3 separate regions of the Homo sapiens genome follow, and regions 1 and 2 are each linked to region 3. Evidence: fine-mapped expression QTL. Tissue or cell type: whole blood. Region 3 holds a variant in brackets; each other region holds the start of a gene. All regions are shown on one strand. Distances are between the middles of the regions.

Region 1 (9,998 bases), 250 kb before region 3:
CTCCCGGCTGGGCGGCAGCCTGGGCATCCTGACGCAGGGAGAACAAACCTCCCCCCTTTTACTTCCATCTCCCCTCAGATTGAAGAAAAGACTTAAAATTAGCTTCCAAGCACAAGCACAAGAGCCTCTCACAATCTTCTCAGCTCTCTGGTCCCCACTTCAGCCAGTCGGGCTCGAGGGAACCCCCACAGATCTTCAGAGCGAGCGCTGTGCAGGGCGCCTGGGCGAGGGCAGGGGCCACACCCGCTGTCCCTGCTGAGCTCGGTCCTGAGTTAGAACCGTCAGGCTCTCAGCAGGCACGGACAGGCTGCATGTCCTCGGAGGCATGGCCCTGCGGCGCCGGCTCCGGGGTGGCATGGTGGGGTGGGCAGTCCCGTGTTCACACGCTGGAGCTGGAGCTGGCAGAGAGGAGTTGGGTTTGGAAGCGTGGGGGCCGGAGGTGAGGGACACTGAGAGGCGCCCCGACCTCCTTGCTGAGAAAGCTGCTGGGAAAGCTCGTTCATCTCACCCCAAAGGAGAGTGACCACCTCATCCCACGAGGCCTGGAGTGTTTCTCTGAGTGCTGGGTTCTCAGGAATGTTTTTTGATGTCTTTTTTACCTTGAATCTCCTGAAAACATCATGGAACCCATGTTTTCTATTTAAGAAAAGGGGAAGGGAAAGGACACCGGCCTGCTGGGAACAGTGTGGAGCCAAGAAGGCCCACGGTGGGGGTGGGCATGGCTCACGCACCCCGGCTTTCTTTCCAGCACCTGGCTGAGCACGCAGACACTGTGCAGCTGGTGTCCGGCTTCGAGGCCACCATCAACAAGTTTGACAAGAACTTCTCAGCCCACCTGCTGGACCTCCTGGCCCGGCTGAGCATCTATAGCACCAGTGACTGTGAGCACGGCATGGCCAGCGTCATCTCCAGGTGGGTGGGCGCCACCCCGGCTCAGCCCTTCCTCAGCTCAGTCCAGCGCCTGCCCCTGCCCAGCACCGCCCTGGCTCAGCCCTTCCTCAGCTCAGTCCAGCACCTGCCCCTGCCCAACACCGCCCTGGCCCAGTGCTGTCCCTGCTCAGCCGTCCCCCAGCTCAGCCCAGCACCTGCCCCTGCCCAGCACTGCCCTGGCCCAGTGCTGCCCCGGCTCAGCCTTCCCCCAGCTCAGCCCAGCACCTGCCCCTGCCCAGCACCGCCCTGGCTCAGCCCTTCCTCAGCTCAGTCCAGCACCTGCCCCTGCCCAACACCGCCCTGGCCCAGTGCTGTCCCGGCTCAGCCTTCCCCCAGCTCAGCCCAGCGCCTGCCCCTGCCCAGCACCGCCCTGGCCCAGTGCTGCCCCGGCTCAGCCTTCCCCCAGCTCAGCCCAGCGCCTGCCCCGGCTCAGCCCTTCCTCAGCTCAGCCCAGCATCTGCCCCAGCCCAGCGCCACCCCAGCTCAGCACCTGTCCCTGCATCCAGGCCCCATCTCCCCTGCACCCTCCCCTGGTCCACCTGGTGTAGCCTCCTTCAGAAGGTGGGGCAGGTCTGTGTCCTGGTGCTAGTGCTGGTCATATGCCACTCCCTGAAGTCAGGCTAGCCCAGCTCTCCCTGGGGTGTGACATTCTGTGCAACTGGGCTGCCCCATTGGCACCCTGCGGCTGTGTGTGTCCTGTGGGGCTGATCAGGCCTGGGTCAGCTTCCCTCATGCTGCACTAACACCTAGCCTGGGGGAAAGGGCCAGGTGGCCAAACTGCCAGCCTGGAAGGGGTGGTGCCCTTGGGGGTGCTGTCCTTGGGAAGGTGCCTATTTGTGCTTTTGGACCACCCTGTGCCCTGTGCCCCCCACAAATGTTCTGATTTTCTGAGCAGGGATTTCTGAGGCCACCCTGCATTGAGAACCACTGCTTGGTTCTCCAAGCCCCTGACACCTCAGGCCCCATTGCTAGGCCCTGTTGGGGTGATGGGAGCCCCAACTTTCTGGGGCCAGGAGAGAAGAAACCTGTGTTTGTGCCTTTGAGCAGGACTGAACAGGACTGAAAACCTTCCTGTGGAAACATTAGTTAGGAGCGTGCCTCACCCTCACCCCTGCAGGGCCTCTTATGGTCTCTGTAGCTGAACACTTCCCCATGGTAGGAGCAGGGCTGCTCAGGACGGACCCGCAGAAGGAGTGTGTGCCCCAGCTCCACTGTCCTTCCTCACCCCTGCTGCCCAGCACGCACCCGCAGAAGGGGTGTGCACCCTAGCTGCACCGTCCTTCCACACCCCTGCTGCCCAGCATGCACCCGCAGAAGGGGTGTGCACCCCAGCTCCACTGTCCTTCCTCACAGGCTTGACTTCAATGGTTTCTACACGGAGCGCCTGGAGCGCCTGTCTGCAGAGAGGAGCCAGAAGGCCACCCCCCAAGTGCCTGTCCTGCGGGGGCCCCCGGCTCCTGCACCCAGGGTCGCAGTCACCGCACAGTGAGCCCTGGCTGTGACAGGAAGGAAGGGTGTGGGGTCAGCAGGGACTGGTGCAAATGGGTCCAGAATTTTCAAATCGAATGCTCTGTGTTCTGTCTTTGCAGTTTAAATATAAAGCAGGAATGATTGACTCAGCTCACTTTGTTTCTCAAGGCGCTGGGTTTCGTTTTATAGAAGCTGCCCAGGCAGGGTGGATGTCTCCCTGGATTTGCTAATCTGTTTGCTTTTTGAAATTACACTATCACCTTTTTGGGTGTTTTTGGCCTCAAAGTGGAAATACATGGTGTTTAAGCCAGGAGCAAGCAAAGATGCATGTGGGGTAAGATCCAGGCCTGGTGTCCACATCTTTCCGGGTGAGCTGGGGCCGGGCTTCCTGAGGTCTGTCGGAACCGGGACAAGCCTCTGGAAACGGTCAGGGAGTTGTGGAAACCCACCGGGCATCGGGTGTCGGGTTTGCTTTGGCCCCAGAGGCAGCCCCGTTCCTTCTCCTGAGGACTCACCCGCCTCCACGACCCTCCTCCTGCTGCTGCTCCAACTGGTCCAGGGCAGGAGGCCACAGACAGGGCCCTCAGGCACCCTGGGAGCCCACACCTCCCCCTCCGTGGGAGTGGGTCGAGGGGCAGGCTCTGCTGCTGGCTGGAAACCCCACCCCGCCCTATCCGGTACCGCCTTGTTACGTAGAACTTACTCAGCAGACTGACACCCAATCCCCCTCGGGCGATCATCTGCCCTGTCTTCCCACCTCCAGGGCTACAGTGGGCAGCACCGCCATCCCCAGTGTGACAGGGCCCTGGGAGCCTCAGGGCTGCCCGGCCAGGTTGGTCTGCTCTGGTTACATTCTGGCCAAGCTGCCCCTTCCTGCTGACCTGCATGTGTATTGTTGTCACCTTCAGCTCTCAGCACCTCGGCCCCCTTGGGCAGTGAGGAAGGGCCCTGGAGGCGAGGTTGGGAGAAAGGATAGCTAGAACAGGATCCTGCGGGGAACAAGGGTTGTGGGCAGCTCTCACCCGGGGCTGCCTCACTGAGAGCACCGCCGAGTGGGGGTGGGGGTGTCCAACTCTCCAGCCACAAACCGCTTCCTCCTTGTCTGCAGGCTGTGCAGGTCTGGCCTGTGAGTAAACACATTTATCAGCAACCCAAGCTGTCAGTCTCAGTGTTGTGCAAATGCCGGACTGGTGAGCAGAGGAGCCTGCTAGCTTTCCTGCCTGGCCCCGAGGCCCAGAAACCCCTGATCTTGTGTCCTGGGGTCTGGGAAGCCCTGGGCCTTGAGAAGTGGGGTTTGCAGGTGGTGATAGGAGGAGGGGAGGGAAGCCTCCAGGGCTGTGGGGTTCAGGCTCCCAGACCCCCCGGCACCTGCTGAAGAGGAGAGCTGTGTTCTGTGGGATTGGGTGGAACTTCCTCAGCGCGGGAGGAGCCTGTTCTGGCCCAAGCTGGTCCTGTCTTTTTAGGAATAAATCCCTGGTAGCTCAGCGTCGGCAGGGGCCTTGCTGTGCCTCTGATGTGGCCAGCGTGCCGCCTTTGCACTTTGCTGTTGAGTAACTTGCACCATGAGGTCAAGGAAGGGAAGTGTGATTGCCAGCTGGCCATTGTTCTATAATAACAGGGTCACCTGCATGAGCTCAGGCACAGGCCAGTATCCCCAGCCCTACCTGGGAGCCTCTCGGCAGCCTGGGGGACCTCGTCCTGTGCCACACAGGCAAGCGGACACACCCCCAGGCAGCAGAAGTCACCTGCGGCCCAGTGCCAGCCCTTGCTTTCTTGCTTTTCATGCCATTCACATTAGGGTAAGAATGGCTTTGAGACAAAATGTGACAGCATCACTCACGCCAGCTTAGATCCTCCGGGTTCCCTGTCCTCCCAGGATAACGTCCGAGGCCCCGGCCTCTTCTTGCCACTGCCCCTTGACCTCTGTCCTCTGCCCCTAGGCCCGTGCAGTTCCCTGACTCGCCCTGCCCTGGTGCCCTCTCTCCAGGCAGGACTCCCTCCAGCCCCTTGCTGGCCCTGCCCTGCCTCTCCCCAGGGAGGCCCTGAGGCCCCCCCCCCCCATGTGATCTGTCAGCAGCGCCCTGTGTGGTCATCTGAGCTGCCTTTCCTGCCACCACCACTGTTCCCACTCCAGGAGGGCGGCCTGGCTGTGAAAGCCCCAGGGAGGGGTCCTGGGTGGACCGTCTGGGGAGCTGTGGTGTCAGCCCAAACCTGCACCCTCGAGGCTGAGCCCACCACGGGGAATGTGGTCACCAAGGGCAAGCACGCTTGGCCGCAGGCCTGGAGACGCCGGAGCCAGGCCACGGTGGGCTGCTGCAGGCTTTGGTCCACGTCGGCCAGCGTCAGCTGCTGTCTGGGGATCTTAGGCTAGGGACGGCCCCTGCACCTGCCATCACCTGGGCTGGGACCCCCACCTAGGGCTCCCCCTCCCCACTTGGACGCCTGCGGGCCCATGCCTATCCCACTCCGGTGAGGCCTCAGCCTGGTGGAGGGGGCGCAGGCTTGGGGGGGAGGGTGGCAGAGCTTCCCACAGGGCTGAACCTATGCCCACAAAGCCATGACTTGCCCCTGCCTGAGGCTTTCTGTTCCCCAGGAAATCAGAGACCCCCTCTCCTGAAACCGCCAGGCGGCCCTCACAAGTCCCTTCCCCTCCAGGACCTGCCTGGCGCCACCTCCTTCCAGCCGCCGGGTCCTTCGAGAGGCCCCCTCTCGGGGCTCTGGCCGGACTTGGGACAGGCTGTGCCTGAGTTTCCTCACCTGTGCAAGGGAGGATGCTGGATTGTGGGGAGAGGGGAAACGGACCCCGCCCCCAGGTGCCGCGCGCCCCGCCCCTCCCACCGGCCGAGGGGCCCATTGGCTGCGGGGCGCCGGGGCGGGGCGCGCGGAAAAGAGCCTCGGGCCAGGAGCGCAGGAACCAGACCGTGTCCCGCGGGGCTGTCACCTCCGCCTCTGCTCCCCGACCCGGCCATGCGCGGCCTCGGGCTCTGGCTGCTGGGCGCGATGATGCTGCCTGGTGAGTGGTTCCAGGGAACCGTCCCGGGCGCAGCGCGGGGCAGGGTGGCTCTCCCCGCAGGACGCGACGCGGACCCCGAGCCCCTGGCCTGCTCGCACCCCGCACCCTGGCCCGGCTTCGGGCTGGTCCCTGGGAGCGGGCCATCAGGTGCACAGTGGTCTCTGGGTGGAGAGCCCCGGGCCGGGGAGGCCGGGGAGGTCGGAGGGAACCTTCAAAGGTGAACTGTGAGAGGGAAGTCCCGCCTCTGAGCTTGTTAGTGGGGTCGGGGCCGGGCCAAGCAGGACGCTTCACCTGCTGCGCGAGGCGCCCTGGGTTCCTGGGATTCACCTGTGGGGCTACCCACCCCCACTATTTAGCCGAGGAGGGAAGGGAGGGCAGACAAGCTGAGGCCTGGAGTGCAGGGGTGTGGGCTGAGGGGACCCGTCTCCTGCCTGGGGGAGGACATGGGGCTGCTGACCCTGGATCCCACCCCTGCTCCTGGAGTGACTTGGGCTGGGGTGTGCTGAGGAGCTTCAGGCTGGAGGCCGGGTTGCTTCCCGCCAGTTTCCTGGGCAGATAGGGGCTGGCTGCTCCCCTGCTGCCTCTCCAGGTTGGAGATGTGGTCATGGAGACACGTCCACTATTGTGTTTTAATGGGAGCAAAGGGTCCTGGGGTTGGTGGTCTCCGAAACCCTGCCCATTGCATGCTGGGACCCTGCCCTCTGCTCTCGGATACCAGGGAGTTTCCAGTTCTTGGGAGGTGAACAGCCTCCGGGAGGCACTTCCTGCTCCCCAGTTAGATGCGATCAGATGATCAGAAGAATGGAGGAGGAGAATGGAAACGGGCAGGTCGGCGGCCCGAGTCCTCCTCCCTGGGGGGAAGGTTCATCCTTGCCCTCGGGCCCCTCCAGAGATCTGAGACAGCCTGGAGACCTGTGGAGTCACTGGCACCCGCTGGCACCCACAGCGTCTCTGAGCACTGTGTGTGGGTGCTGCAGGACACAGGCCCACCGGCCATGCCTGGGGGCGCTCCTGGGGTCTTTTAGGCACAGAACCCTCACTTGAGTCTTTGTCCCAGAGCTATCTGGTGAGTTCCCCAGGGGAGGGTCAAGCCCAGCAAGAGACAGAATCTGAGGGCCCAGGAGGCCTCTGGGAAGGAAACCTGCCCCCCGGCCCCTCATGCCTGCTGACCCTCCCTCCTGCAGCGATTGCCCCCAGCCGGCCCTGGGCCCTCATGGAGCAGTATGAGGTCGTGTTGCCGTGGCGTCTGCCAGGCCCCCGAGTCCGCCGAGCTCTGCCCTCCCACTTGGTGAGTCTAAGCTGGCCTGGGGAGGGTCCCTGGCTGGCCCCTGAGCCTATTTTTGTGAAAGGAGCTTTAGCTTACAGAAAGTGGTGAGAGGCCAGTGGGTGTCTGGGGCTGCCCTGTACAGCTCTAGCCCCCTGGGGCCCATCTCCGTTCCTCCCTCCAGCACTGCCTGAGGGCTCCCAGCCTCCTCGTTCCTTCAGGAGCTCTATGGACCCCTGGAAGGGAGCAGGGGCAGGTTGTGCTGGCCCCGGGCCCCTCCCCAGTTTCACTTGGCGAGGCTGATAAGCCAAATTCCTCTTTGAGAAGTGACGCTGGCTCACCGCAGAGTTGACACACCTTCCTGTGTTGGGGGGGGGGCCTGGCGGGGGTTTCCCAGGGCTAGAAACTGAGAATGCCCCCCTCCCCGACTGGGGCTGCCCGAGGGTGATTCCTGAAGCCTGAGTGGGTGGGTGTGCACACATGTGCACGGCATATGCATGTGTGCACCTGTTTCCAGGGAGGGCAGTTCCGGCCCCAGCCCTGTCCTTACCTCAGCATCCGGGGAACCTACTACCGACCTGCCCGCTGCCCTGGGCTCATCCAGCCGGTGGCACAGCTAAGGCTGTCCCAGAGCTCTGCAGGCCGAGCCCCAGCCTGCACATGGGGGCTGGAGATGCAGTGGTCCAGCAGGAGGCTCTGCAGGCACCACCAGGTCCGGCAGCTGCTGGAAGGGATGGGTCCTGGAGGCAGGCAGCTGTCGCTGGAGGGGCCTGTGCGTGCTATCCCCGCCACCCACCTCCTTTGCTGCCTGGCTGAGGCTATGCCTCCCCCACCCTATGCTTTCTCGGGGAAGGGGCATTGTCGTTACCCATGCGTGGTCAGATGGGGAAACTGAGGCCTGGGAGGACCGAGGAGCACCGTGTCCTTCCTGTCTACCCAAGTGCTGGGCTCCGCCGGTCGCCTTCAGCACAGCCCCGTTCCCTACCCTCCACCCTCCACCCCCCGCCCCCCACCCTCTGCCCTCCGCCCCCCGCCTCCACCCTCCACCCTCCACTCTCCACCCTCCACCTTCCACCCCCCACCCCCTGCCCCCTACCCTCCACCCTCCACCCTCTACCCTGCCTGAGGCTGTGGACCCTCCAGGATGGAGCCTTGACCTGGGGCTGGAGGCCGGCACCCCTTCCCCCCCAGCTGAGCTTCTCTGGCCCCCAGGATTGAGGTGGGCACAGCCCGGGCAGGCTGCTCACCTGGGACCCTTCCCTCCTCGCTCAGGGCCTGCACCCAGAGAGGGTGAGCTACGTCCTTGGGGCCACAGGGCACAACTTCACCCTCCACCTGCGGAAGAACAGGTGAGTGGGTCTCGGGTCGGCCCCCCTGCCCGGGCCTGGCTCCAGCACACTGGTGTCCCCGGCGTCCAGCCTCTGGGCCAGCCTCTCTGCACCGAGGGGGCCGAGGCAGTCACAGCACTTCTTTTCCAGGGACCTGCTGGGCTCCGGCTACACAGAGACCTATACGGCTGCCAATGGCTCCGAGGTGACGGAGCAGCCTCGCGGGCAGGTATGGGTCGGGCGGAGCAGCTGGGCGGGCAGGTAGGGGCTGGGCGGCCCTCCCCGAGCCTGTGGGGCCATGGGGGCACAGCCTGTGGACCCCTCTCCTGCTTCCCCCGCAGGACCACTGCTTCTACCAGGGCCACGTAGAGGGGTACCCGGACTCAGCCGCCAGCCTCAGCACCTGTGCCGGCCTCAGGTGGGTGTGGCGGACGAACGCCAGGGCTCCCGCAGGTGGAGAGGAAGGCCTAAGCCTGTGGTGGGGGTGGGGAAGGGAGGCAGGGAGGGTGCCTCCTCCTCCCACTCAGGCCTTTGCTGTCTTGCATGGGGGTCTGCTCAGGGGACGCCAAGCCCAAGAGGCTCACCCTCCTGTACCCTGGGGCCTGAAGTCACCTGCGGGGGGCTGCTGGTGGCAGGGTAGGGGGAGCTGTAGGCAACAAACTGGAGCCTCTGGTCCTTCGGGGCAGGACCAGGCCACTCTGAAGCCCACAGCACACCCGGCTCCCACTCCCCTCAGGGGTTTCTTCCAGGTGGGGTCAGACCTGCACCTGATCGAGCCCCTGGATGAAGGTGGCGAGGGCGGACGGCACGCCGTGTACCAGGCTGAGCACCTGCTGCAGACGGCCGGGACCTGCGGGGTCAGCGACGACAGCCTGGGCAGCCTCCTGGGACCCCGGACGGCAGCCGTCTTCAGGCCTCGGCCCGGGGTGAGCACCCTTGTCTCCTGTGTTTGGCTGGCCCTGCCGGTGTCCACTTGCCTGGCCTGTGAGTCCTCCTGGCTCCCCATGTGCTGGGTGCTGCCCATTGTCTGCAGCCTGGAGCAGGCCTGGCCACGCTCCCCCAGCACTGGACAGGGGCTGGACAGTGGCCCCGGGTCCCTGAGGGAGGGTCCAGGCCCCGGCGCTGGGAAGGCTGACTGGCTTCTTGTGGCTGTTCCCCAGGACTCTCTGCCATCCCGAGAGACCCGCTACGTGGAGCTGTATGTGGTCGTGGACAATGCAGAGGTGTGTTGGGGGCAGGGAAGGTGGGAGAGCAGCCGGCGGCGGGGGCATGGGGGGTGTGTGGGCTCCAGCCTGAGGGTCTCGTGTCCCCAGTTCCAGATGCTGGGGAGCGAAGCAGCCGTGCGTCATCGGGTGCTGGAGGTGGTGAATCACGTGGACAAGGTGGGCAGCGGTCCTGGCTGCAGAGGTGCCAGAGCCCCTGGCGGGAGGTGGGGGGGGTGTTGCCACAGGGTTCATTCCACCTGCTCCAGCTCTGCCCCGCACCTGTGCCTGGCCCCACCTCGCCGTGGGACAGGTGCATCCTCCGCCACCCACCCTCCCTGCTGTACCTTCCGCCACCCTGCCTGACCCCCAGGACTCCACCACCTCTCCAGCTATATCAGAAACTCAACTTCCGTGTGGTCCTGGTGGGCCTGGAGATTTGGAATAGTCAGGACAGGTTCCACGTCAGCCCCGACCCCAGTGTCACACTGGAGAACCTCCTGACCTGGCAGGCACGGCAACGGACACGGCGGCACCTGCATGACAACGTACAGCTCATCACGTGAGCTGGCGGAGCGGGCAGGGTGGGGAGGGCTGGGGAGGGAGGGCGGGCAGGGTGGGGTGGAAGGGAGAGCAGGGCTGGGGTGGGAGGGAAGTGGGGAGGGAGCCGTGTCCAGGGCATCTGTGTCACTCCCACTTCCAGGGGTGTCGACTTCACCGGGACTACCGTGGGGTTTGCCAGGGTGTCCGCCATGTGCTCCCACAGCTCAGGGGCTGTGAACCAGGTGAGG
Region 2 (9,944 bases), 210 kb before region 3:
GGCCCAGTGTGCTGGCAGGACCTCGAGACACCACCAGGCCAGGGCCCTTACTCACCGGGAGAGTTCAGGACCAAGACGGTGTGGTTTGTGGCCTGGGGCCACACAGGGGACCAGAAAGCAATCTCCACGGGCGGTGAGGGGCACTTGTACTTTTATCACGGACAACGTGCCCCCATCCACATCCACAAATCAGTGCTGTCCAGGCCAAACCCAGTAGTCCCTGTCCAGCTGCTGCCCTCCGAGGGCCTCGCCCAGGCTTCTGTCACATTGTCACTCGCCAGGACGATGTACAGCAGCTGTTCCCCTCTTACCTGACGTTTAAAAGCACATGCCAGTTGTAAACACTTACAACAAGGGAGAAACGAGCAAGGGGAAAGTGAAACTCGCTGGGGACGCAGCCGCAGGACCACGCTTCTGTTCCTGTTGGGGTGCCCGGGTGGGTTTCACAGGTCGCCTCCAGTTCTGCAGGCTGAACCCGTCTGCCTGGGCACCCCGCACTGCCTGCCTCCTGGGCACTCTGGGGCGACATGGAAGGAATTGCACTTGTCTCAGGTTTCATGCACGCAGTCAGGAGTCTGCACCAAGAACGGTCCATCAACGCGGGAGTCCTCCCCGGGAGGGGCTTCCGTGCCTCCCATTCTGGGCACTTCCAGACCTTCTGCAAGAAGTGCTGTCCTTGAGTCATTGTTTTGTCCCGAGGCTGCTGCGAGCAGGGGGACAGGTGAGCACGTGTTGGAGGGTGGGGACCTGCGGGACAGCTTCAGTCCAGGCACAGCCGCAGGTCCCGGCTGCCCTGCTTTCCCTGGCCCAAGAAGAGCAGCCCTCAGCAAGCTGTGGGTACAGTCCCGGCTCACGCACAGCCTAGAGCGCACTGCAGGGCCCCAGCATCCTCGCCTTCATGTTCACCTTTGTTCCCTCCTGCTTTCCAGCTTTGGAGTTCTTGTTAAGAGGGACTTGAACCACAACGCTATAAACACACCTGCATTCCCTGTTTTCTTTTGTACACACAAAGCTTACAACCTTTACTGTTTCCAACTGGAAAACCAGTTTTTCCAACCCCTTTTAAAAAACAAATGATCCTTTTATCGTACGCCGAAAGCCCTACCCATGACAAGCCCACTTCTGCATTTGACTCTGTTCACTGACCCTTCGTTTCCTTCCTAAACCGACTCTTTCGGTAACTTTCAGTGAAGAGGTGGCTTTAATAAATATATTCTCAGGGCCGGGTGCAGTGGCTCATGCCTGTAATCCCAGCACTTTGGGAGGCCGAGGCGGGCGGATCACAGGGTCAGGAGTTTGAGACCAGCCTGGCTAACATGGTGAAACCCCATTTCTACTAAAAATAGAAAAAATTAGCCGGGCGTGGTGGCGGGTGTCTGTAATCCCAGCTACTCGGGAGGCTGAGGCTGGAGAATCGCTTGAACCCAGGAGGCGGAGGTTGCAGTGAGCCGAGATTGCGTCATTGCACTCCAGCCTGGGTGACAGAGCAACACTCCGTCTCAAAAAAAAAAAAAAAAAAAAAAATATATATATATATACACACACATATGTATATATATATTTATATATACGTATATGTGTATTTACATATATACGTACATATATATATTTATATATATTCTCCAGTAATCTCCAGAACCTTTGTGTGGGTCAGGGTGAGAGGTGCCACCAGGATGTAAACAGAACAACTGAGTCCTCCAGGTAGGAGCCAGGTGCGATCAGCAAGACCGCGAGTGTGGGAGTCAGAGGTGCCTCCTCAAAATGCATCCCCCGTCTGTGGCATAGCACACAGGCCCCGGGGCCCCGTGGACAGGGCTGGTCCCAGCGAAGGCCGGCCTGGGGTAGGGGGGTGGGACGCCAGAGGCTGCCCGCAGCAGGAAGCTCCCGCAGATGCCAGGGCCTCTTGTGCCACTTGGCAGAGACCCCAGAAGGAGCCAGGGGGCAGCATCAGAGCCTGGGGCCCGGACAGGGGTGCCCAAGGGCACAGCAGCTGCAGGCCATTGGCAAGGCCAGAAGACGTTGAGTAGAAAGCTGGGGGCGCATGGAGAGACCCCGAGAAGGGGCTGTGCAGCTGGGGGTCCTGCATTTGCCGTTTGTGTTTCATGCGGCGATTCTGAAACCAGGTTTTTATCTGTAGGAAAAGCAAGATCAGAACAGGGGTGAGACTAGGCCACCAGCCCACCCTTGCCCACCCCTGCCCACCCCAGCCTGCCCGGCCCACCTCACCTGGACCTCTGAGAGCTGCATCTCCCTGGCCAGCCTCTTCCGCTCCAGAGGGCTCAGGTACTGGTGGTGCTGGAAGACGCCCTCCAAGGTGCGGACCTGCTCCATGGTGAAGGCTGTGCGGACACGGGGGGCCCGCAAGGTATTTGGCTCCTTACTCAACCCTGACATAGAGGGTAAGGGCATTTGGCTCAACATGCCACCCCATGGGGCAAGCTCGTGCCCACGGGTAACAGGTGAAGACAGCCATGCTGGGGGCTGGGCAGGGCAGATCTTCTCACCTGACAGTGACCAGCAGCACCCCCGCCGCCTCCCAGGTCACATGCGGAAAGGGGGCTCAGAGAGGGGGCTCAAGAGGGGAGGGAATGTTAACAGCAGCTTGGGCCTGCCCTCCGCTCAGTCCACTCAGTTCCGCCCCATCCCACACTTCCCTTCCAGAAGCCGGTTCCCAGGATGCCCTTCCCACAGCCTTCCAGGCCGGTAAGGTAAGAATCCATTATATGCAAAGGCCTGGCGACCCACCCAGGGGCACCCATCCCTGTCCCGGGCTCCGTCTCCTCAGCCAGCGGAGGCCAACTCAGTTAATCCCCAGGCCCACTGTGGTCAAGTCTGTTTCCTAATTTCTAAGTTAAGGAATGGGGGCTGGCACCAAACGGCCCCACGAGGTGGTCTGTGGAGCTGGGTCTGGGTCCCAGGAAAGGCCAACGTGGCCAATCGAGCTCGACATTAAATGCAAGTCTGACCAAAATGCTCGCTGGAGTTTCTGCGGAAGGAAGCGTATTTTACAAAATCTGTCTTAACGTTAGCCTGAAAGCACATGGTAGACCCAAAAAGCAAATGCCTTCTGGCAGGGAGGGCTGTAGGACTGGCATCAGAAAGGGGGTTGCGGGACAGGGATGGCTGGCTTTTTTGGGGTGGGGCAGGATAGCTAGCTGGGGAGAATACATTTAAATTTTCATTTCCCTTAAGTACAAAGTCACTCCATAAGGATCAGTCAAATTTTTAAAAATGAAAACTTGTAGATGATGTCAACCCCACTTTTGACCAAGTACTACCTTAAACCTAAAAGTGGTGATGATGTCACAAAGACTAAAACACAAACGCAGAGAACCTTTGTTCTCAGCAGACAACAGAGCATCTGGGCGGCCACAGAGGGAACTTCAGAGTTTCTGCAGGCATCGGGGTCACCGCCACCCCTGCAGCGAACCTGCAGGCTCTTTAAAGACAGCTGTGCTCCAGGTGACCCGGAATGGGCTTGAGCCTAGACGCTGAGCAGGCACCGGCTGTGCTGGGGGGCGGGGGCGGGGGGCTTGGCAAATCATCGAGACTTTCAGTGAGCGCCCGGAATCAGGGCAGGGAGGTGCGGACGGGGACCCCTTGGACGGTCCCTCGGCACCAGGCCGGGGTGGGGGACGAAGACACAGCTGAGGAACGGGGTGACAAAAGGAGGCAGAGGAGCCCACCGGGGGCTCAAGGAGAGGAAATCCCCGTCAAGGCTTTGGTTCCGAGGGAAGCTGCGCTCCAGTGAGGGCGCCGGCAAGGCCTCCGCCGGCCCTCATGGAAACGCCCCCGGCCCTGACCTAGTGGGCAGGGCACCGCGGGGAGTGCAGCCGCCGGGCTCCTGGCCTCTCCCCCACTCCCATCTCCACCTGGGAAGGAAGGGACCCCCCCCACCCGGACCTACCGGCCATGGTCCTCTCCGGCGCAGGCAGATTTGAGGACCCGGCGGCCTCCTTGATGCTGACGGCCTGAGGGGGCTCCCGGGCGCCGGATGTCTGGCCTGGGCCAGGGAGGCTCCCCAGGGAGAAGTCGGCAGGCCTGGGGGTGTGGGTCGGCCCTGAGCAGCTGCTCTGGGAGAGCCAGTCCACGGAGCCAAAGCTGGAGAGCTGCTGCGGGCCACGAGGTGGGGAGGAGGAGAGGCGCATGGCGGCCAGGTGGGCCGGAGGGAAGGCCAGGCGGGGCTGGCCAGGCGCAGGATCCACCTCGGGCCTCGCCAGGCGGCGGCGTTTATAAGCCCAGGAGGAGGGGGCGGGAGCCCGGTTTGCATACACGGCTAATGCCCAGATAAGCAGCGCCTAATTGCCTTCGATTCAGAGGCACAAAGGAGGCCGTTCACACCTCCCCGGCTCCTCGATGTCTGGGGGAGGGGCGGGGCTGCGGGCCCTGGTTAATGGAGAGGCGATGGTTCGGGATCGGTCACCTCCTTTCATCTCTCCCAACCCCCCACCCCGCGGGCCGAGGCTGCAGGAAGGTAGGAGGGTCCCACTCCCACTTGGGCCTGTCCTGGGAGGTGCCGGGCGACCTCTCCTCTCCAGGGGGACGCTGGCGCCTGTGCCCAGCCCGGACACCCGAGGGCGAGCAGGCTTCAGGCTGGGAGAGTCAGGGCGGACTTAGGTTGGGAGCAGGCTTCGGGGTGGGAGAGTCAGGCCGGTGCCCGCGTGCGCTGCGTCCAGGCTGTGCGGCCGCGCAGGAACCGAGGGAGGCTTTCCCGGGAAAGAGACGCGGAGGACCCGGGGAGCGGCGCGCGGGGGCGGGAATGTCGGGAGGGGCCTCTCGGGGGACTCGGCCGCCTCCAGCCCTAATCCGGCTCCTCTGGGGGACTCACTCCGGGGCCATCGCAGGAGCCTCTGCATTCGGGCGCGGGCGGCTCCCTGACTCCATCCCGAGCTGGAAGGGCCGGAGCCACTGCCTCGCACGGCGGGGTAGGAACTCCGCGTCGGCGGCGGGACTGGTGCGTCCCCGCCAAGCCAGGCTGTCCCCACTGTGGCCAGGGCGCGGGCAGAGCCGCCGGTGACTGTGGCGCCCAAACCTCACGGGGACGCCCTGAGCACGGGCCCCCGGGACGGTCATAGCCACGCGCGGCCGCTGCTCCCACGAACCTGAGTCCCGAGCTGTCTGCGTCTCCGCGTCCCCGGGTCGCCTGCGCGTCGGCGTGGGGCGCGGGGACCGACGTGACCGGGTGGGAGGCAGCCATGCCGAGGGTAGGACGGTGTCTTCCGCGCACTGGCTTGGGGTCCGCACGGCGTCTCCGGCGGCCGGAGTTAGGCGGAGGCGCAGGTCCGGCCCCCGAAGCCATGCGGGGTTTCGGCGCAGACGCGGGGTCCACGGAGCAGCCCCGACTCCCGGCCAGGTCCTGACCGCGGCTGCCTCAGCGCCCACGCCGCCCGCGGAAATCAGAAAGACCGGCGGGCCTCGCCCCACGGTTACGCCCGCCCCAGCCAGCCGAGCCTCCCGGGCTGAGCAAAGAGGTTGGAGCCCGGGAGGCGGGCGCTGGGGCGGGACCTCAGCCGGGAACCGATCGGCGGCCTACCTGGGGTCACAGGAGAGGGGTCGCGGAACGGACCGTGCCGCCGCTGACCCTGGTCTTCCTCGGACCCTGCCGGCCCAGTTAGGTCACTGGGCCCTCAAGGGGGAGGCTGGCGGGGGTGGGGCGCTGGGGGCTTTGGACGTGGCCTCGGGGGTAAAGCCAGGAGGGGTGGGGGGCCAGGAAGCCGGCCTAGACCCCCGCTGCACTTCATCTCCGGAGAGACCGGGTCACCCCCGGTAGAGGGGCTTTGAGCCACTGCACAGGACCGGCAGTGTGTCCCGGCCAGGGGCAGCGAGGGCCCAGATGCCTGTGGCCACAGGGCTGGCCCCGAGGATGCCCCATGGGGCAGGTCCCCAGCACTCCCGCAGTGGGGGCGGTGCCTCAAAGTGGAGCAAGACAGCACACCTCACACATCCCGCAAAAACATACAGAACGTTCGACAGGCAGGGAAAAGGCCCAGAAGCTTCCCTTACATAAAGAGGAACACCACGAGCATGCATTTCCGAAACGCCAGCACCCAGCCTTCCATTTCTCCATTTCTAATTTCCGGGGCCCAGGGCCCCGGTGTCTCAGCCCCCTTCTGTACGTGGTTCAGCACCCCCACCCCCAGCTCTACATAGAGCCCCTCCTGCCGGTTTCCCAGCCCCCCGCCACCACCTCCACCTGAACCGCCCCCTCCGATCCCCCCAAGCCCGAAGACAACCTCACCTTCACACGGCAGGGTCAGGCAGCCCCTCTCTCCTGCCCAGCGGCCCCACCACCGTGGCTCAGGCCTCCCCGCCTCCTGCAGCCCGGGCCCCTCCCTCCACCCTCCCTCTAGAGCCCGCCGAGGCTGCTCTAGCCCAGGCTTGGGGGTCCCCAAAGCCTCCGCCTCCAAGCCTCCGTCCACCCCCGGCTCTGGGACGCGCCCTGATGCGCTGCCATGGGTAGGAGACTTGGGCGCCCCCCTGCCTCCTTCCTCCCAGCCCCTGGGGCAGCCCAGCCCCGTGAATTGCGCCCCGCACGCCCCAGAGCGTGGTCCCCGCGGGCGTCGCCCTGTCCCCCACCCTCGGGGGCCAGGCCGGGTTGCGCTGGGCAGGAAGTCCCGCGTCACTCCCAGGCCGACAGCACCGCCCCCACGCACAGCCCGGAGTCCAGCTAGTCCCCGAAACGCGCTCCCCCCGAGTCCAGGGCCTGAGGACAGACACCGGGCCCAGCGCGTGCTGCCGGCCCCGTCGCGACTCGCCCGAGCCTCCTCCGAGCACTCTGGGACCACCTGAGGGGGAGGCCAGCTACTCAGGAGGCTGAGGCAGGAGAATCTCTTGAACCTGGGAGATGGAGGTTGCAGTGAGCCGAGATCGTGCCCCTGCACTCCAGCCTGGGCGACAGAGTGAGACTCGGCTGAAAAGGCTGCACATTGTATGATTCCATTCATATGGCCCTCTAGAAAAAGCGAAACTATAGGAACAGAAAATAGATCAATGGTTGCCAGGGCTGGGAGTCAGGGAGCAGGTGACTATAAAGGGACACAAAAAAAGTTTCTTGTTGTTATGGAAATGTTCCGTAACTCAATTGTGGTTTTGGTTGCACAACTATATGTATTTTTACAAATTCGTAGAACCGTACACTACAAATGGTGAGTTTTACTGTATGTGAATTACACGTCAATTAACCAGACTTTAAAAAAAGTTTGTAGAGATTCCCCAACCCCTCCCCAACACCCACCCCTGTGGCCTCGGCCTCCCTGACATCCCACGTGCCCCCTTCCCCGACGCCCCACGATCCCCGCTCCCCAACACCTCCACGCCCCCCTCCCCGACACCTCCATGCCCCCCTCACCGACACCCCACGCCCCCTTCCCTGACACCCCCACGCTCCCCTCCCCGACTCCCCCACACTCCCCGCTCCCCGACTCCCCCATGTTCCCCGCTCCCCGACACGTCCACTAGGAAGTGGGGCTGGTCTGGTGCATGGCCGATAAAGAAACGCTAAGCCGGCCAGGTGCGGTAGCTCACGCCTGTAATCCCAGCACTTCGGGAGGCCAAGGTGGTCGGGTCACCTGAGATTGGGAGTTCGAGACCAGCCTGACCAGCATGGTGAAACCCTGTCTCTACTAAAATACAAAATTAGCCAGGCGTGGTGATACATGCCTGTAATCCCAGCTATTCGGGAGGCTGAGACAGGAGAATCGCTTGAATCCAGGAGGCGGAGGTTGTGGTGAGCCAAGATCGCACCATTGCACTCCAGCCTGGGCAACAAGAGCCAGACTCCATCTAAAAAAAAAAAGGTAACGCTAAACCAACTGTGCTCAGACACTGGCCCCATTAAACAGCACACAGGAGGCTAATCCTGCCATGCCTACAGAGCGCCTTACTTATTTTGGAGACAGGCTTTCACTGTTGCCCAGGCCGGAGCGCCTCATGTGATCACAGCTCACTGCAGCCTCGATCTCCAGGGCCCAAGTGATCCTCCTGCCTGAGCCTCCAGTGAAGCTGGGACTGCAGGTGCGTGCCACCATGTCCAGTTAATTTTTGTGTATTTTGTAGAGATGGGATTTTATCATGTTGGCCAGGCTGGTCTCAAACTCCTGAGCTCAAGTAATTCTCCTGCCTCAGCCTCCCAAAGTGCTGGTATTACAGGCATGAGCCACCGCATCTGGCCCCTAGATTGATTTAAACAGCCAAAATACACTCTCTGCACCAGATTAGAAAGCATTAGAGGTCCGGGGCCCATGTATTCAGATTCATTATTCTGATACCGGGCTCAGGAGGATCATAGCACGTGGCCCCTGCCCCACTACCTGAGTAGGAAGGCAGATTAATTCTGCTTGGTGCCCCTAAATTGCTCCAGCCCAGAGATGGGTCCTTCCTCCAGGGCCGAGTGTCCAGTAACCCGAGTGATAGAGCGGCACAGCCCCCACCCTTAGGGTGCTGGTGTGTTTGCTGGGATGTGGCTGTCTGGACCTGGGCTTGCTGTCAGCAGTAACCTTCTGGAGCGACAGGGTCATGTAGGGTGCACCTAAGCTCTGTTTCAGACCCCACTGTGGCCTCAGCCTGTGACTCTGACCTTTGGGGGCTGTGTATGTGAGGGGGAATGTTTGCAAGCTTGGCTCATCCAACAGGCTTTTAGCAGCTTGAAGATTCTCAGGAAACACAGCAGGGTGGAGCTGATGTGAGACGGGGTCTCACCATGTTGCCCATGCTGGTTTGGAATGCCTGAGCTCAAAGTGATCTTTCCGCCCAGGCCTCCCAAAGTGTTGATATTATAGGCGTGAGCCACCTAGCCTGGCCTAGGGTGTCTATTTTTTTTTTTTTTTTTTGAGACGGAGTCTCGCTCTGTCACCCAGGCTGGAGTGCAGTGCACAACCTCCACTTCCCAGGTTCAAGCGATTCTCCTGCCTCCTCCTGCCTCAGCCTCCCGAGTAGCTGGGATTACAGGCTCACGCCACCATGCCTAATTTTTGCATTTTTAGTAGAGATGGGGTTTTACCATGTTGGTTAGGCTGGTCTCAAACTCCTGACCTCGTTTGTGATCTGCCCGCCTCTGGCCTCCCAAAGACCTGGGATTACAGGCGTGAGCCACCGCGTCTGCCTTCAGAGTGTTTTTTTGTTTTTTGAGACAGAGTCTCTGTTGCCCAGGCTGGTGTGCAGTGGCGCAATCTTGGCTCACTGCAACCTCCGCCTCCTGGGTTCAGCACTTCTCCTGCCTCAGCCTCCCGAGTAACTGGGACTACAGGCACCCGCCACCACACCCGGCTAATTTTTGTATTTTTAGTAGAGATGGGGTTTCACCATGTTGCCCAGGCTGGTCTCGAACTCCTGAGCGAGCTCAGGCAATCCACCCACCTCAGCCTCCCAAAGTGTTAGGATTACAGGCGTGAGCCACAGCGTCCGGCGCCTCAGTTTCTTAAATGAGGTGAGGCTTGGAGTCAGTTCTTGCAGGCGTGGTCTCACAGGCCTCCCCCTCAGACCTGGGCAAGCCGTTCATTTCCCCAGGAGCAGCCTTTAGCACTAGCGGGAACTATTCTTCTGGATACCCAGAAAAGCATGTGCAGGAGGGGCTGCAACCATACCACCCACAGGGAACCCCTCAGGACTGCTGGGTGCTGGGCCAGCGGGGACCCCCCCAGCCCCATTTAGCTGCATGGCCCTGGGCAAACCACTTGTCTTTCTGGATGGGCCCACTAATTTGCAGGCATTGTTATGCTAGCGGAACTCCTCCAGGCTACATTTGTATCTCCGGCTCCAGCCAATCCCTCTTCTGACTCAGGGGTCCAGGGTGGGGCCCTCTATTGCTACTTGGAAAATGCTTCCTGGGCAGGTTTGCTTCGGTTTTCTCAAAATTGCAAGGACCCTGCCCTCAGCCTCTGCCCAAGGATCACACCCCAGACGCTCAGCGCCTCCCTAGGCCCACCCAGACCAGAGCCACCTCCCTG
Region 3 (9,998 bases):
AAGTTAGGAGGAGCAACCTGATTACCCAGACAGGCAGCAAGGGAGAACAGAAGCCCAGGGTTCAAGGCAAGCTGGCCCCCAGGCTCATAGGGTGGGCGGCAAGCCGGTCCCCCAGGCTCACGGGGTTCACGGCAAGCTGGTCCCCCAGGCTCACAGGGTTCACGGCAGGCTGGCCCCCCAGGCTCACAGGGTTGATGGCAAGCTGGCCCCCAGGCTCACAGGGTTCATGGCAGGCTGGTCCCCAGGCTCACAGGGTTCACGGCAGGCTGGCCCCCCAGGCTCACAGGGTCGGCGGCAAGCTGGTCCCCAGGCTCACAGGGTCGGCGGCAAGCTGGTCCCCAGGCTCACAGGGTCCACGGCAAGCTGGTCCCCAGGCTCACAGGGTTGGCGGCAAGCTGGTCCCCAGGCTCACAGGGTTGGCGGCAAGCTGGTCCCCAGGCTCAGGAAAGCAGCCCAGGGCAGGACGGGCCTCGTCTGCGTGTGCCCCATGTTGCACTGCCGCAGAGGGATCCAGAAGGTGCTGCTCTGGGTCCACACCGAGGGGACAGCATGCACCAGGCTTCAGTATTGCAGGACACCTGCTTTGCCTGGGCCGCGGTGCTTCTGGATACCCTGCTCTGGCTGTGGTCCCACAGCATACCTGCTCTACGGGGGACAGGAACAGAGCCCGGCTGCCAGGTCAGCTCCCCCCTCTCTCAGGATGCTGCGTTCCCAGCAAGAATCTGCAGTGGTTCTTGAGAAGTACAAGCAAGAAAGGCGGTGGGCACTAAGTGGGTCCAAGGCCACTCAGAGACTCACCCGGCCCCACTCAGCTGCAGCTGAGAGCCTTGTGTGTCTAGTTCTGTGTCGCCGCTGGACAAGAGACGTCCTGCTGATTTTTCCAAGCCAGCATAGTAAATCATTAATAATTGTGAGCCTGTTTAAACCATTTACTTTTGGAAAGTAACATCAGGATTTTAAAGGCAAGAATTGCCAGGAAATGCGGGTCTGTTGGTAACTATTGAGTTTTGTCCCCAGAACACATTGTAAGGCGGCAGGCAGCAGGCCCAGCAGGGCAGTGAGTGGGCTGGGGTTGGCCCTGTGGACTGGGACTGGTAGACATGTCCTCTGCAAAGCCCCCGCTGGAGCCTGGGCCTGCCTTGCTGGTGCAGAGGAGGCTGGTGCTGCGGGATTCCTGTGAGGAGGCGGCTGATGTGGGCCACGGGGCATCACCGTGGCACCTGAGGGGCCCCACTGGAGGAGCCAAGCGGGTACCCACACAGAGTACCTGCCCCTGAGGAGAGAGATGGAGGCTGCAGTCCTGGGCTCCCCATTCCCTTCTTTGCCTAACATCCGTGTGTCGAGGAAATCCTGCCTCCCAAGCAGAACACATCCCAGCTCCTCACTGGGGAATTTTACTGCCCTGTGTGGCTCCCAGCCTGCATCAGGCTACGAGCTCTGCCCTGTTCCTGGCTCCTCTTGCCCCGAGAGCTGTGGGTCCCACCCTTTGGCTTCTCACTCAGAAGCAAGGCCTCGTCCTCCACCCACCTCTCTCTTCAGGGCCTGCGTCTGCCCACACTGGCCTCTGCTCTGACACTCTCCTGGGGGTCGGCTGGCCTCCCAGGCCCACCCGGGACCCTCCCCACCTACACACCCCATGCTCCGTGCTCGGCAGGGCCCTCCTTCCCTCTTTGTTTGGCAAAGGCTCTGTCACCCCAGATCCCTCCAGCTCCCACACTTGCTCCCGCCCTCACTTAGGCTTCACCGACTGCACCTCTGAGCCCATCCCTGCAAGGGGGGGCAGTGGGGGCCCCTGCCTCATCCTCCCCCCACCAGGACCTGGGCTTCACAGGTGTGCAACAGGTTCTTGGCAAATAAACAGAAACCAAAGATTAAGCGTGTCCCCAAATGCCAAAATGCCACATTATCTCCGCTGTTTCAGGACTCTGGAGGAAGACCCTCCCAGCCCACTGGCCGCTGTGCACCTGCAGGTGAGGGGATGCACCTGCTGTGTGAAGGGATGCAGGGCGCATTGCTGCAGATGGGAGCCATGGCCCGGGGATGCCACCTCGTGCCGTGTGGAGAAGACCTCTGATGAGCCCTCCTCATCCTCTGTGTGGGCGCCAGTGCTGTCCCCAGACAGGGCTGGGAACTGCTGGACAGAAGGCAGGGAGCTGGCGTGATGGGAGCTGCCCCATTTTAAGGTTCACTCCCTCGTGCTGATCAGATAACACAGGGTGTCCAGCCTCTCCAGGGAGCCTTAGGGAGATTGGAGGGCTAACCTCGAAAACCTTAGTCTTCATGTCTTGCCGGTTACCTTTCCAAATGTTACGGAAATGAGACATTGGATGTGACACCCTGTGGTCCCAAAGTCAGGCAGGAGCGGGAGTGGCCACAGCCTCGAGGGACGCGGAGGGAGCCCGGTGGCCACATCTCCGCAGAGCCGAGCCCCGCCAAGTGTTACTCTGGGACTGCTCTGCCGGGTCTCATGGCAAAAGGAGATGGTAAAAATAACGTGGCCGTAAATCCTGGACGCCCAACAGGCCATCAAGTCTGCTGCAATGCCCGCTGCTGCCACTCTCGGTTGGGGCCCCTGCCAGCATCTCCAGAGCTGACTTCGTTGTCGGGTGTGTGACTCTGAGATGGGAGGGAACAGACCTCTGCGTTCCGAGGCGGGAGGAGTGAGAGCTTCATGGGCGGCAAGAGCGGATCCAGTGACATTTCGATTGTTATTTAAAAGCGATTGAAAGCTTGGGGCAAAGTTTTACATGACTGACTTATGCTTCCTGGAGACAAAGGAGCCGATTTCAAGTTTTCAGAGACAGTAAGTGTTCAATTCATGGAGGAAAAAAGTCAAAAGCAGTGTAAAAGTAGGATGCTGCCTTCAAACTGCTCACTGAACCCCCGAGACAATGCAGGAGCTCTCAGGGACCTCTCGGGAACGCTCAGGGGGCAGTGGCCCCGAACCAGCCAGGGCAGATGCTGTTCCAGCTGCAGGATCGATGCAGACTCAGGCAGCCACGTCCGACCTAAGTCAACAAAATGGTGCCACCCCGGCCCTCGGCAAAGCCCAGAGACCACCAAACAGCCCCTAGAGGTTTCATACCCCAGAAAACCTCTGCTTGGAAAAATGTTTAAAGCGAAACTTTGGGTTTTGGCTGTCTAGAGGAGAACGCATGTTTCTGGCAAGATGAGGTTGTTGTGAGCCAGGGGCGTTTTATCGCCAGTCCTCACGTCTCAGCCCCTGTTTGGAGTACGCTCAGGTCAGCCCAAGCATCTTCAGGAGGAGCCACCTTTCTGTGAGTAGGAAAGACAACGGTGCCCACCCCAGTCACGTCTTTCACACTTTCATCCTGGCAATGAGAGCGAAGACCCCGGGGCTGGAAGGAGCAGGAGCTTGAAGACCCCGGGACTGGAAGGAGCAGGAGCTCAAAGACCCTGGGGCTGGAAGGAGCAGGAGCTCGAAGACCCCGGGGCTGGAAGGAGCAGGAGCTCGAAGACCCCGGGGCTGGAAGGAGCAGGAGCTAGAAGACCCCGGGGCTGGAAGGAGCAGGAGCTTGAAGACCCCGGGGCTGGAAGGAGCAGGAGCTTGAAGACCCCGGGGCTGGAAGGAGCAGGAGCTTGAAGACCCCGGGGCTGGAAGGAGCAGGAGCTTGAAGACCCTGGGGCTGGAAGGAGCAGGAGCTCGAAGACCCCGGGGCTGGAAGGAGCAGGAGCTCTCCTCTCAGTGGTCACACATGCAGGCTCAGCAGCCAGAGACCCAGGACAGTCATCTGTGGCCCCACCTCCTTCCGCTGTGGCCTGGAACACCGCCGTCCCACGTGGACTTGGAACACCACCACCCCACGTGGACCTGGAACACCACCGCCCCACGTGGACCTGGAACACCACCGCCCCACGTGGACCTGGAACACCACCGCCCCACGTGGACTTGGAACACCACCGCCCCACGCGGATCCATCCACAGGGCCCCGGGCACAGGTTGAGGCTAAGACAGGAGCAGCCACAGCTCTGGGCAGCCTCCCTGACACGCAGGGACCCACTGCACTTGGTGAGGCCCCTGGTCATGTGAGGCCAGCCTGGCGTTTTTGGAAGGTGTGCGTGGGTTTGCGAACCATGTCTGTTAGTCATGGCTACCCGAGGCTCCGCTCCAGCTCGCTCTTGCCGTGGTCACGTTGGTGTCACCTGATTTCTATTTTGGCTGAGAAATGCTGCAGACGGCCCGGCCAGGCTTGGGTTGCGAGTGTGGGTGGTCGGTGGGACCTTTCATGGAAACGCAGGTGCTGGCCGGTGCCTGGGGAGGCCTGGACCAGCCCCACAGGGCACGGGCAACAGCTTCTGTTCCTGCGCTTGAGGTGGACAAAGTTGAAAGGTGCTGATAAAAGTGCCTGAGCCAGAGACGTACGAGGGAGAGGGAGCGAGGCCCAGACACCTGCTCAGCCATATTGAGACAATCCTGAAGCCAAAATCTCCACTAGGCCCCAAGGCCAAAGGGCTACTGGGAACCTCCCCTGAGCAGTAACAAGACCTCAGCAAATTCTTTCCAAATAAATTGTTTTCCCAACGGCTGAGGGCAGGCTAGCTTCCCGAGGATGCTGGGTAATCTGATTAGACGCCAGTGGGGCGGGAGGGAGGCAGGAAACAGCCCTCCTCCGGCCCAGAGCCGCCGCGGCTGACGGATCATTTGGTGGAAATGATTTTTAGCTGCTAGAAACCCAGAGTTGCCCAAGTGACAGCTGCGTTTCTGAGTTTGTAGGTAATGATTCAAACTTAATTCTGCAGAGCAGTTTAAGTCCGTTTTCGCTGTGAGCTCTGCCACCCATGGCTGCGGTGCTTGGACCACAGTCCTGAAGAGTTTAAAGTCCATCCAGACTCCCAGAGCCAGGAGCCTCAGACCCGCTCCAGGCACCCGGCTTTCCATGAGCTCCAGAGGCAGATCGGCCACATCACAGACGTGTGTCTGTGTGAGCACCTCTGCTCCTGACGACAGGGTGGGGGACTGCGGGCCGGGTCAGTCCCACTTCCAGGTCAGAAAGGGCCGACTGCTATCAGCCTTTGCCCTGCAATGTCAGGAGGCTGCCCGTGTATTCTAAAGAGGGTCAGCTCAGAGAGGACCCAGCTGACGTTGCCCTGGTGGGGTCCGCGGGAGAGCGTAGCCAGGCCGAGGGC[C/T]GACTCCGGAGAGCAGGACGAGTCGCCTGGGCCCTCAGCGGAGACAAGCGCGGTGGCCTCTTTCCGCGGCCCCCATGCAGAGCCGGCCCTGCCTCCCTTAGGCTCCGCCAACGCCTAGAGCTCCTCGTGGGTGACGGCGGGGCTCAGCCGCCCCCGAAGGACATCGTGGGGGTGGGACCAGCGCCCGCCCCGTGCCTCTGCATGCTTCAGGCTGCTGCGCCGCACATCAGAGAGAACCGTGCTGGGGCTGGTGGGTGCCCTGAGACACTGGAGGGGAGGGAACGGAAGTAGAAGGTTGTTCTCGGCCTGCGATCACGCGCGGGCAGGTCTGACGTGGCGTAGACCCCGGGTCCTTCCTGTTTATGGGTGTAATGTAGTTTATGGGTTTAATGTGGATATGTTATCACAGTTTGTAAGCTCGGATGTCTGCCAAAATGTCTGGAACACCCAAACTTGATTAGACCAACCGCGTTGGGGGGTTCCAAGGAGGGACGATGTCACGAGCCAGGCGCGCCGACCTCCAGGAGAGCCAGACACAGGTGGATGCCGTCGAGGGACTGTAGAAAGAGGATTCCCCAGTCAGCTCAACCCGCTGGCTGAGACGCAGACTTGAGAGGATAAGACACTGCCACTCAGAAAGGGGCCCGGAGTTGGCCGCCAACCTCGACGCTGGAGGAACCATCCCCGGAGACCCAAGGTCTCCCGCAACCTCCCTGTGCCTTATCGGTGTGAGAACTTGACCTTTCCCTAATGGTGAAAATGAGAAGCTGTGTGCAGTGTGACTGGGATAAACACCTACACTTGTTAGGAATTGTTTGTGCCAAGAAACCGTGGGATTCAGGCATTAAGCCACAGTGTCTCTCGTCCTCTGCCACTTCACCCGCTGCGCACGCTGCTGCCTCTCTAAATTGTTCCGCGCGTGGATCCCGGCACGTGCCAGGCGTCCCCTTGGAGTGCCCGTGCCCAGTCGGCAGCGGGGGCCTTGCTGAGGAGCTGGTGCTGCTGCCGGCCTCGCTTTCCGGTCCTGACTCCATGCCCAGGCCCGCCGGGCGTCGGCCGTGACCACAGGTGACATTCACGCAGCAGCCAGCGTCCTGGTGCCTGCCCGTCTGTCCCTGCTCCTCCCCAGCCCTCCCTCAACCCAGGGCTGGGGCCGGGACCGCGGAGGGGCTGACGGGAAGGGCGGCCGTCACCGCAGACAGGTGCAGACTGGAGCGACCAGTCTCAATCACACCAACCAGCCCAGGGGGAGGTTCTGAGCATTTGGTTGGCTTTTTGGAACTGGAAACACGCGTTCCCACAGAAGCACTGCTGTACAAATAGCGTTCCCAGCTTCTCCCCAAACACACACACCCTTGGAGAAGGTGTCCCGGGCAACAGCACTGCTGCCTCTAACTCCTGGAGCCACCCCCTCTCCTGACTCCTTCAGGGGAGAAGGCGGCCGTCCCCTGGGGGAGAAGGTGGCCGTCCCCTGGGGGAGAAGGCGGCCGTCCCCTGGGGGGGAAGGCGGCCGTCCCTTGGGGGAGAAGGTGGCCGTCCCCTGGGGGAGAAGGTCGCCGTCTCTTGAGGGGGAAGGTGGCTGTCCCTTCGGGCAGAAGGGTGGCAGTCCCGCCGAGAGCCCCATTCTCTCCTTTGTCCTGTCAGGGCGGTGATGACTTCTGCCCACACGGCAGGAAAGGACAGAGAGGCTTCCACCCGCGGTCTGAGGGGCTGTGTCAGGAGGCGTGAATCCGCACCCTGGTGCCTGGCTGGATGGGGGGCAGGCGGGATCCCTGGATCTTGGGGTGAGGGGAGGCCCTGACTTCACTGGCTCGGGCTGGACCTCAGGTGGTCTGGGCCACTGGTCTGTGGCTGTGTGAGTGGCCCAGCCCATCTGGTGCTGCTCAGGACATGATTGGTCGAGTGATCACCTACGAGGGCGCGGGCAGAGCTGGGGATCCCGCTGGGGAGGCAGCAGCTTCTCACACGCAGCGCCGCGTCTCTGCCCCACAGCCGGCGCCCACCCCAGCGACTCGGGTCCTTGGGTGTTGGACTGGACTGCAAGGCGGTGGCCCCGGCCTACAGACAGCGCTTCCCAAAGCAGGCAACTGGACCTAGAATTTCAGAGACCAGAGTTGGGTGCAGTTAGGGGTCCCAGCCCAGCTCCTCACTTGCAGATGGAGATGCTGAGTTCTGGAAGGTTCTGTGCTTTGCCCAAGACCCCCACCAGCTGTGGCAGAGCCCTCACTTTCACCGGTTCTAGACTCTGGCTCTTCTGAAGGCCCTGGGATCCCTGTGCCCTGCGCGGGGGGTACAGCCTGCATGTCGATGTCAGGCGCCCGCCCAGTGACTTGGGGCAGAGGTTGGTGTTTCGGTGGCTCTGACGCCCAGCCTGTGCCCGGCATGGAGCTTGGGTTAGTGACGCATGGACAGGTGCTGGCACCCCTTTGAGAAGCAGCTGTGCAGGGCACAGGTCCTCCCTTCAAATGCCTCTGGAAGTAGCTGGGGGCGGGCATGGGCGGACATGAATTCAGACTGGATGCCCTCTGGAACAGCCGCGTCTCCAGCCACTGTGGGCACGAAGGGACGGGTGCTCCCAACATGCAGCTGTGTCTGAGGATGAACTTCAACCCGGGTATCTCCAGCAGCGCACATGCTGTTAGCGGCTTGGAGCACAGGGTCCCCCACTGGCTGGCCCAGGAAGGGGGCAACCCCAGCCCTTCTGAGGATGAGGGACCCCTGTTTCTGGCCTATGTTGCCTGCTACTGGGAGGGCAGCGTCTTCGCCATGGTGGACTTTGCCTTTATCCTGGACACAAATGTCACAGCTGCCCTTAGGGAGGTGCGTGGAGCCTCCCCACCCCCCGCCCAACGCACCACAGGAGAGGCCCCAGCTCCACCTAGGCCATGTCCCGCTCGGGTCCTTCCCTCCAGCCTGTGGCTGTGTGAGGCAGGGGTGCATCCGACGGCCACTCGCCAGCCACCCCCATCCCCACGAGGATGCCACCGCCACTCCAGGAGCCAGGACACCAGCTGCACAGAGTGCGAGGCAGGTACCCACATCCCAAGGGCCCCGCCTGCAAACCAGCTCCGAAGGCAGCAGACGCCCAGCGCGGAAGGTGCCGGAAAGAGTCTCAGGGATGTGTGCCTGATGCATGTTTATGCTGCATGAAAAGGAAAACATTTCAAACCCCAAACAACCTTCACCTTTATCTAAATCTGGAAAAGTGTATTTTTTCATTTGTTCAGAAAGAGCATCTCTCAGAGGCAGCCTCGGCTGTCACTCGATATTAAACTGTCAGAAAGAAACTCCAGCCTCATAGCTCAATAAACCATGCGGAACAAAAAAGAAATCACAGGCTCTTTTATAGATTTTACAAAAGCAAGATGATGCTTTTTTTCAGGATACAAAAATCCCTTTTTTCTCTTTTAAGAAAACACAGTGTATAAAATCATGGTGCTAAGAATCAGATCAACAGCCTGGATTTTAATGTGGGGGAAGAGCATTCAGCAGAGAAATCCTTTTCTCCCCAAACGAGAGCTGCGGACACCAGAGACAGTCCCGGGGCACCAGACATGTCGCGGCTTCTGGAGCACGTTCTGGACTCTGGCTCTGGCGGGGGAGAGCCCCCTGGCTGTGATGACCCCCGGCTGACAAAGAGGACAGCCCCTGGGCCTGGGAGGCGAAGGCTCCGCCGGGTCTTCCTGAGCACCTGGTGCCCCCGTTCTGGAGCCCCCCAACCCCCGAACGTTTATGCAGCAGCAGGAGGGCAGGTCCCTGCACACGGTCCCGGTCACCACGGTCTCTGTCACCACGCTCCCTGCGGGTCCCGCTGTCCTACTAGACCCGTATGTGGCATCCGTGTCTACCAGACGCCCATGTGGCATCCGTGTCTACCAGACGCCCATATGGCATCCGTGTCTACCAGACGCCCATGTGGCATCCGTGTCTACCAGACACCCATATGGCATCTGTGTCCATTAGACCCCCATATGGCATCCGTGTCTACCAGACGCCCATGTGGCATCCGTGTCTACCAGACGCCCATGTGGCATCCGTGTCTACCAGACGCCCATGTGGCATCCGTGTCTACCAGACGCCGTATGTGGCATCCGTGTCTACCAGACGCCCATATGGCATCCGTGTCTACCAGACGCCCATGTGGCATCCGTGTCTACCAGACACCCATATGGCATCTGTGTCCATTAGACCCCCATATGGCATCCGTGTCTACCAGACGCCCATGCGGCATCCGTGTCTACCAGACGCCCATGCGGCATCCGTGTCTACCAGACGCCCATGCGGCATCCGTGTCTACCAGACGCCCATGCGGCATCCGTGTCTACCAGACGCCCATGCGGCATCCGTGTCTACCAGACGCCCATGTGGCATCCGTGTCTACCAGACGCCCATGTGGCATCCGTGTCTACCAGACGCCCATGTGGCATCTGTGTCCATTAGACCCCCATATGGCATCCGTGTCTACCAGACGCCCATGTGGCATCCGTGTCTACCAGACGCCCATGTGGCATCCGTGTCTACCAGACGCCCATGCGGCATCCGTGTCTACCAGACCCCCATGCGGCATCCGTGTCTACCAGATGCCATGTGGCATCCGTGTCTACTAGACCCCCATATGGCATCCGTGTCTACCAGATGCCCATGTGGCATCCGTGTCTACCAGATGCCCATGTGGCATCCGTGTCTACCAGACGCCATGCGGCATCCGTGTCTACCAGACGCCATGCGGCATCCGTGTCTACCAGACGCCATGCGGCATCCGTGTCTACCAGACGCCATGCGGCATCCGTGTCTACCAGACGCCATGCGGCATCCGTGTCTACCAGACCCCCATGCGGCATCCGTGTCTA

The links. PIP is the estimated chance that this variant, and not a neighbour inherited with it, causes the effect.
Region 1: ADAM8 starts here. The variant in region 3 is fine-mapped to the expression of ADAM8 in whole blood (TOPMed, PIP above 0.99).
Region 2: it holds the start of VENTX, and the variant in region 3 is fine-mapped to the expression of VENTX in whole blood (TOPMed, PIP 0.96).

Annotation. Positions count from the first base shown.
Region 1 is chr10:133,272,187-133,282,184 of GRCh38, reverse strand. It overlaps ADAM8 (ADAM metallopeptidase domain 8), which reads left to right and starts at 5,317. Exons shown (of 23, transcript NM_001109.5): 1 at 5,317-5,413; 2 at 6,598-6,701; 3 at 7,950-8,026; 4 at 8,156-8,234; 5 at 8,347-8,423; 6 at 8,742-8,931; 7 at 9,166-9,228; 8 at 9,319-9,387; 9 at 9,600-9,769; 10 at 9,911-9,992. The coding sequence starts at 5,368. TUBGCP2 (tubulin gamma complex component 2) reads left to right here. Exons shown (of 18, transcript NM_006659.4): 17 at 749-912; 18 at 2,284-3,550. The coding sequence ends at 2,419. RefSeq lists enhancers at 3,293-3,372, 3,863-3,912, 5,227-5,874, 6,878-7,137, 7,175-7,824 and a silencer at 5,068-5,627.
Region 2 is chr10:133,232,119-133,242,062 of GRCh38, reverse strand. VENTX (VENT homeobox) reads right to left here and starts at 4,208. Exons shown (of 3, transcript NM_014468.4): 1 at 3,908-4,208; 2 at 2,227-2,387; 3 at 135-2,131. The coding sequence starts at 4,148. The coding sequence ends at 1,757. RefSeq lists enhancers at 3,421-4,024, 4,025-4,629, 4,630-5,233, 6,443-7,047, 9,465-9,944.
Region 3 is chr10:133,017,518-133,027,515 of GRCh38, reverse strand. No RefSeq gene overlaps it. Among named protein-coding and RNA genes, the nearest start is that of LINC01168, 57 kb to the right of the region's middle. The variant C/T (reference allele first, on the strand shown) is at 5,149.